2 linked regions of the Homo sapiens genome follow. The protein of the gene in region 2 purifies or fractionates together with the protein of the main gene of each other region. This does not show direct contact. Each region holds a gene or a part of one and is shown on either strand. Other genes may lie near its edges.

Evidence for each region.
Region 1: the proteins of PMEPA1 (region 2) and ASIC4 purify together in Homo sapiens (co-immunoprecipitation; one large-scale study listed by IntAct). This does not show direct contact.

What each region holds. Positions count from the first base shown.
Region 1 is NC_000002.12:219,531,339-219,534,988, reverse strand, and holds part of ASIC4 (acid-sensing ion channel 4), read right to left. Parts: intron 3,232-3,650; coding exon 3,087-3,231; intron 2,989-3,086; coding exon 2,861-2,988; coding exon of another isoform or gene 2,843-2,860; exon of another isoform or gene 2,675-2,842; coding exon 2,512-2,674; exon of another isoform or gene 2,107-2,511; coding exon 2,050-2,106; exon of another isoform or gene 1,727-2,049; coding exon of another isoform or gene 1,410-1,726; exon of another isoform or gene 1-1,409. UniProt on the Homo sapiens protein: Does not exhibit measurable stand-alone pH-gated sodium channel activity but may form pH-gated heterotrimeric sodium channels. Its activity could also depend on alternative gating mechanisms.
Region 2 is NC_000020.11:57,647,854-57,651,123, reverse strand, and holds the end of PMEPA1 (protein TMEPAI), read left to right. Parts: 3' UTR 1-2,728; downstream 2,729-3,270. UniProt on the Homo sapiens protein: Functions as a negative regulator of TGF-beta signaling and thereby probably plays a role in cell proliferation, differentiation, apoptosis, motility, extracellular matrix production and immunosuppression.

The DNA of each region.
Region 1 (3,650 bases), on a different chromosome or scaffold from region 2:
CAGACTGCTCCAGAGAGCAGATATAAGCAGAACCCCCCAGCACCCTCCCAACCCCCTGGGACTGGGGGGGGGTCCTCGTGGCCCAGAGGGAGAACACAGCCCATCCACCAGAGCTAATCAACTATGTGAGGCCTCAGACACACAAGGAGGTGTGGAGAGGATGCTGGGATGCATGCATGGATGGATGGATGGATGGATGGATGGATGGATGGATGGATGGATGGCAGATGGCCAGATCGACGGATGGGCGAACAGAAGAACAAATAGACCGACAAGCTTCCCAGGATCAATGTGCTGGGCTTTCTCTGCCTGCCCCTTCAGATCCACTCTCCACTCTTCAACCTTGCTCTGCACCCTATGAGGCTGATCTCCCCCAAATGCATCAACTAAACTCCCTTGTCCTCTGGCTTTGGGTTCAGTTTGGCCAACAGGAGGCCCCAGCAGAAACAGAAGGTGAGAGGGAAGAGATGCCAGGGTATTTCTCCCGCCTGGCTTTCTCACTGCCAGGCCGTAGGTGGCAGAGGCTGTGCTCCTCCAGCCATGCTGCTGTCAGTCAGCCCTCTCGGACAGCCACAGGTCTCTCTCTCCTCCTGCAGGCCTGGTGGGAATGAAGGCTCCCCATGTTGCTAGCTCTGTGGTCTACCGCTGTGCCTTGCAGGCACCTTACTCCTGATCACATATCTGTTCCTTCACTAAACATCTCCAATCACCCCTGTGACAGATGCAGGTGGTGTGGGGGACAGAGAAGGGCTGGATGTGTGTGGCTGCCCAGTGTCTCAAACCCAGCCCCAAGGCCCCAGGTGTCTGGATTACTGCAGCCAGCTTCGCCAGTCCCTGGCTTTGAGTCTCCTCCCCTCCTATCTCATTGGACTCACCTGGCATTCCTGCCTTGCCACAGGCCTTTGTTGGCTTCCTAGAGCCTCCCTCCTCTTTTTTTTTTTTTTTTTTTTTTTTTTTGAGACAGGGTAACTCTGTAGCTCAGACTAGAGTGCAATGGTGTGATCCCAGCTCACCGCAGCCTCAACCTCCCAGGCTCAAGCCTATCCTCTTGCCTCAGCCTCCCGAATAGGTGGGACTATAGATGTGCACCACCACACCCAGTTCACTTTTTTATTTTTTGCAGAGACAGGGTCTCACCATGTTGCCCAGGCTGGTCTTGAACTACTGGGCTCAAGTGATCCACAGACCCTGGCCTCCCAAAGTGCTGGGTCTACACTTGTGAGCCACCGTGCCTGGCCTCCCTCCTCTACTCTTTCTACTCCCTCCCCTGTTCTCTGCCCTGCAGCCACACAGACCTTTCAGTGCCCCGGACACAGCATGCTCTTTCTGGCCACAGGTCTTCAGTGTATGTCCCCCTTTGCACCTGACTCTTATACACCCATCAAGCCTCAGCTAATGTGTCCCTTCCTCTAGGAATCCTCCCTACCTTCCCAGGCTAGGGCTGCACACCCCTCCTTGGGGCCTTGCAGCACACCCGAGGCTCCCCTCTCCAGGAGTTGACGGGCTGTGTGGGAATGGCTGTCCACAGCCCTGCCGGGGTGTAAGCTCTCCAAGGGCAGGGCTGTCGCCCCCACTCTCACCTCCAGTACCCAGCACAGGCTGTAAAGGTCTGGAGAATGCGCGAATCGATGAATGGATGGATAGATGGATGAACTGCAGATCAGGCAAGATCTGTGGACAGATGGGGTTTGCCTTACCCACACCGATAGCCAGCAATGCATTTTTCCTGAGACCAAGAGAGAAGTCATTTCACTTTCTCAAAGTGGGTGAGCTCATTGGCTGAACCAAGATGAGAAGCCCAGACCTTCACTCCCAGTCCTGGCTTCTCTGCAACCCCCCACCCTGCTGCCTCCACTTACCCAAGTGTCTGTACCTGCAGAGGTCCGCAGACCTCTCCCCAACCCCACTGAAGTATGGGCTAAGGCTCAACCCCCAGGAAGAACCCTCCAGGAAGAGATTGGGAGGGGAGGATCCAAGACAGTGAGGAGAAGAGTGGACAGAGACATGAAGAGGCTGATGGAGAGGTAGGAAAGGGTAGGCAGCACGGACCCAGTGTGTGGTCTGCACACTCGATGTAGATATTTGGTGGGCAGATGGTCTCATTGCCTGAAAGGAGAGAAGATTATTCCTGGAATCTACGATCACTTCCCCTGTCCCCCACACGCCCAAATGTAAGCACATACATGCATGCACACACATATGCACACATTTGCATAAATGTGCTTGAACACCACACACACAACCCCCACAAATACGCAACCACGGATATAAATGAGCATGCACGTACACAAATACATATTAACATGCACACAGGCATCTGCATGCCGGCATTCCCACATGCATATGTGAAACCATGTTTAAAAATCCCAAACACTCACACTCACACGGGTACAGACACATACACATGTTGTATACATGCACCTGCCTGTGCACATGAGCAGTGCCTTGCCCCGGGAGGCTCTGGAGCCTAGCAGGGTGGCATGGAGGGCTGGCTGGGGGTGGGGTGCCCACCTGGCATGTGCACCATCCGGCAGTGGCAGCGCTGAAGCACGGCCTCCTTTTCACAGCGCAGCCGGCAGGCAGACACACTGTAGGCCGAGTAGCCCTGAAGCTCAGGCTCCCTGAGCTCACTCTCTGCGCGGCAGTTGCCCCAGGGCTGGGGCAGGTAGGTCAGCTGCAGAGGTGGGGCATGATGAGGTCATGCTCAGGAATCCCACCCAGTCCTCCAGTGCCCACAGCCCCAGCAAAGTCAACACAGCTGGCAGGCTCTGAGCTTCTAGAGGGCAGGTTTGCTCCACATCCCCTCTGAGCCCAAAGGCGAGCCCTGTGCCCAATCCAGGGCCTAGCAGGAGATGCTCACCCGCTGTTCCTGGCAGGACACAAAGGTCTGGAAGCCTGGGGACACCCCGAACCCCAGCTGGTGGATGTAGGGCGGCTCCTCCTGGCTGTGGATCTGCACCCGAATACCTGCCTCAAACGACGTCTCATCTGCACAGCAGAGATGGGGACCTTTGGAAACCCATCCCAGGCAGAGGGCCCAGGCCCCAGTCCCCAAGGTGGCCCTTGTCCCTTTCCGGCCTGCGTACTTGTCTCCCTCCAGATGGGCAGGTACTCCTCCTGCTGGATGTCCAGCATGATCTCCAGGCCACTGCCCATGCCCCCTGCCCGGCTGGGCAGCGAGCTCCGCGGGTCCGCGTTGAAGGTGTAACACTTCCCATAGCGAGTATAGACCTGGGAGGTGGGGTGAGAGAGCAGGAGGGGAGATGAAAGGAGTGGCCAAGGCAACTCCGAAGTTCCCTGCTCCCTGCTGAGGGCCACCAGATCTGCTTGGACACTCCAGTCCCGTATCCTAGCAAGCAATGTACAGCCCAGCCTCTCCAATCAGCGCCAACTTTTCTACTGATGGCCTCCCTTAGATGATTAGAAAGCATCTCCAACCCAACAGCACATCAACACCTTCCCAAACCCTGCCTTCCCCCCACCGTTTTCCTCCACCCTAGTAAACCACCCCACTATATCCACCCAGTTTCTCAAGTCGGAATTTCTGAAATCTCCCCTTCCATCACTCCTGCATCCAAGCCAACAGCTAGTCCTGGGACACTTCTTTCTCTTCTTTTTTTTTTGAGATATGGTCTTGCTCTGTTGCCCAG
Region 2 (3,270 bases):
GGCACCGAGTTCCAGGTAGTGGTTTTGCCTTTCCCAAAAATGAAAATAAACTGTTACCGAAGGAATTAGTTTTTCCTCTTCTTTTTTCCAACTGTGAAGGTCCCCGTGGGGTGGAGCATGGTGCCCCTCACAAGCCGCAGCGGCTGGTGCCCGGGCTACCAGGGACATGCCAGAGGGCTCGATGACTTGTCTCTGCAGGGCGCTTTGGTGGTTGTTCAGCTGGCTAAAGGTTCACCGGTGAAGGCAGGTGCGGTAACTGCCGCACTGGACCCTAGGAAGCCCCAGGTATTCGCAATCTGACCTCCTCCTGTCTGTTTCCCTTCACGGATCAATTCTCACTTAAGAGGCCAATAAACAACCCAACATGAAAAGGTGACAAGCCTGGGTTTCTCCCAGGATAGGTGAAAGGGTTAAAATGAGTAAAGCAGTTGAGCAAACACCAACCCGAGCTTCGGGCGCAGAATTCTTCACCTTCTCTTCCCCTTTCCATCTCCTTTCCCCGCGGAAACAACGCTTCCCTTCTGGTGTGTCTGTTGATCTGTGTTTTCATTTACATCTCTCTTAGACTCCGCTCTTGTTCTCCAGGTTTTCACCAGATAGATTTGGGGTTGGCGGGACCTGCTGGTGACGTGCAGGTGAAGGACAGGAAGGGGCATGTGAGCGTAAATAGAGGTGACCAGAGGAGAGCATGAGGGGTGGGGCTTTGGGACCCACCGGGGCCAGTGGCTGGAGCTTGACGTCTTTCCTCCCCATGGGGGTGGGAGGGCCCCCAGCTGGAAGAGCAGACTCCCAGCTGCTACCCCCTCCCTTCCCATGGGAGTGGCTTTCCATTTTGGGCAGAATGCTGACTAGTAGACTAACATAAAAGATATAAAAGGCAATAACTATTGTTTGTGAGCAACTTTTTTATAACTTCCAAAACAAAAACCTGAGCACAGTTTTGAAGTTCTAGCCACTCGAGCTCATGCATGTGAAACGTGTGCTTTACGAAGGTGGCAGCTGACAGACGTGGGCTCTGCATGCCGCCAGCCTAGTAGAAAGTTCTCGTTCATTGGCAACAGCAGAACCTGCCTCTCCGTGAAGTCGTCAGCCTAAAATTTGTTTCTCTCTTGAAGAGGATTCTTTGAAAAGGTCCTGCAGAGAAATCAGTACAGGTTATCCCGAAAGGTACAAGGACGCACTTGTAAAGATGATTAAAACGTATCTTTCCTTTATGTGACGCGTCTCTAGTGCCTTACTGAAGAAGCAGTGACACTCCCGTCGCTCGGTGAGGACGTTCCCGGACAGTGCCTCACTCACCTGGGACTGGTATCCCCTCCCAGGGTCCACCAAGGGCTCCTGCTTTTCAGACACCCCATCATCCTCGCGCGTCCTCACCCTGTCTCTACCAGGGAGGTGCCTAGCTTGGTGAGGTTACTCCTGCTCCTCCAACCTTTTTTTGCCAAGGTTTGTACACGACTCCCATCTAGGCTGAAAACCTAGAAGTGGACCTTGTGTGTGTGCATGGTGTCAGCCCAAAGCCAGGCTGAGACAGTCCTCATATCCTCTTGAGCCAAACTGTTTGGGTCTCGTTGCTTCATGGTATGGTCTGGATTTGTGGGAATGGCTTTGCGTGAGAAAGGGGAGGAGAGTGGTTGCTGCCCTCAGCCGGCTTGAGGACAGAGCCTGTCCCTCTCATGACAACTCAGTGTTGAAGCCCAGTGTCCTCAGCTTCATGTCCAGTGGATGGCAGAAGTTCATGGGGTAGTGGCCTCTCAAAGGCTGGGCGCATCCCAAGACAGCCAGCAGGTTGTCTCTGGAAACGACCAGAGTTAAGCTCTCGGCTTCTCTGCTGAGGGTGCACCCTTTCCTCTAGATGGTAGTTGTCACGTTATCTTTGAAAACTCTTGGACTGCTCCTGAGGAGGCCCTCTTTTCCAGTAGGAAGTTAGATGGGGGTTCTCAGAAGTGGCTGATTGGAAGGGGACAAGCTTCGTTTCAGGGGTCTGCCGTTCCATCCTGGTTCAGAGAAGGCCGAGCGTGGCTTTCTCTAGCCTTGTCACTGTCTCCCTGCCTGTCAATCACCACCTTTCCTCCAGAGGAGGAAAATTATCTCCCCTGCAAAGCCCGGTTCTACACAGATTTCACAAATTGTGCTAAGAACCGTCCGTGTTCTCAGAAAGCCCAGTGTTTTTGCAAAGAATGAAAAGGGACCCCATATGTAGCAAAAATCAGGGCTGGGGGAGAGCCGGGTTCATTCCCTGTCCTCATTGGTCGTCCCTATGAATTGTACGTTTCAGAGAAATTTTTTTTCCTATGTGCAACACGAAGCTTCCAGAACCATAAAATATCCCGTCGATAAGGAAAGAAAATGTCGTTGTTGTTGTTTTTCTGGAAACTGCTTGAAATCTTGCTGTACTATAGAGCTCAGAAGGACACAGCCCGTCCTCCCCTGCCTGCCTGATTCCATGGCTGTTGTGCTGATTCCAATGCTTTCACGTTGGTTCCTGGCGTGGGAACTGCTCTCCTTTGCAGCCCCATTTCCCAAGCTCTGTTCAAGTTAAACTTATGTAAGCTTTCCGTGGCATGCGGGGCGCGCACCCACGTCCCCGCTGCGTAAGACTCTGTATTTGGATGCCAATCCACAGGCCTGAAGAAACTGCTTGTTGTGTATCAGTAATCATTAGTGGCAATGATGACATTCTGAAAAGCTGCAATACTTATACAATAAATTTTACAATTCTTTGGAATGAGGCTTTTTCACTTCTTTGGCCAAATGTAGCTCTTCTCACTTCCCACCCCTTTCTACAATAACCCCGGGTGCATTCAAGGGAGGCGAAGCGATCCCTCGGAGCTGCTGGGCAACCTTGAACAGTTCGTTCAAACTTTCTGTTTTATTAGTTCAGGCAGCATTCAGGGAGCCCAGTGAAAACACTAGCTCAGGCAGGTTCTGGTAAAGGGGGTGGTCGTTGTTAAACAATTTTGCAAAACACTGCATACTTTTCCTCCGTCGGGAAATCATTATTCACCATAGCATGACGAAAGCTCTGATAAGGTCTGCAAGGAAAAAAGAAACTGTCTTAGGTAGGGTTCTTCCAGAAGTAACCCCAAGACGTGGCCTTGTGTGTAAGGGATTAGGACGTTTTAAGGATGTGCTCCCAGGGGGCTTCCGCTAAGGGAGTCAGGGAAGAGGATCAAGGAGGGGGAGAACCTGAGCAAGGGAGACACTTGTGGACAGAGTTCCAGCCTCAGCTTGATCCCAAGAGGACCTGTGGGGGCTCTGGACCCTGGA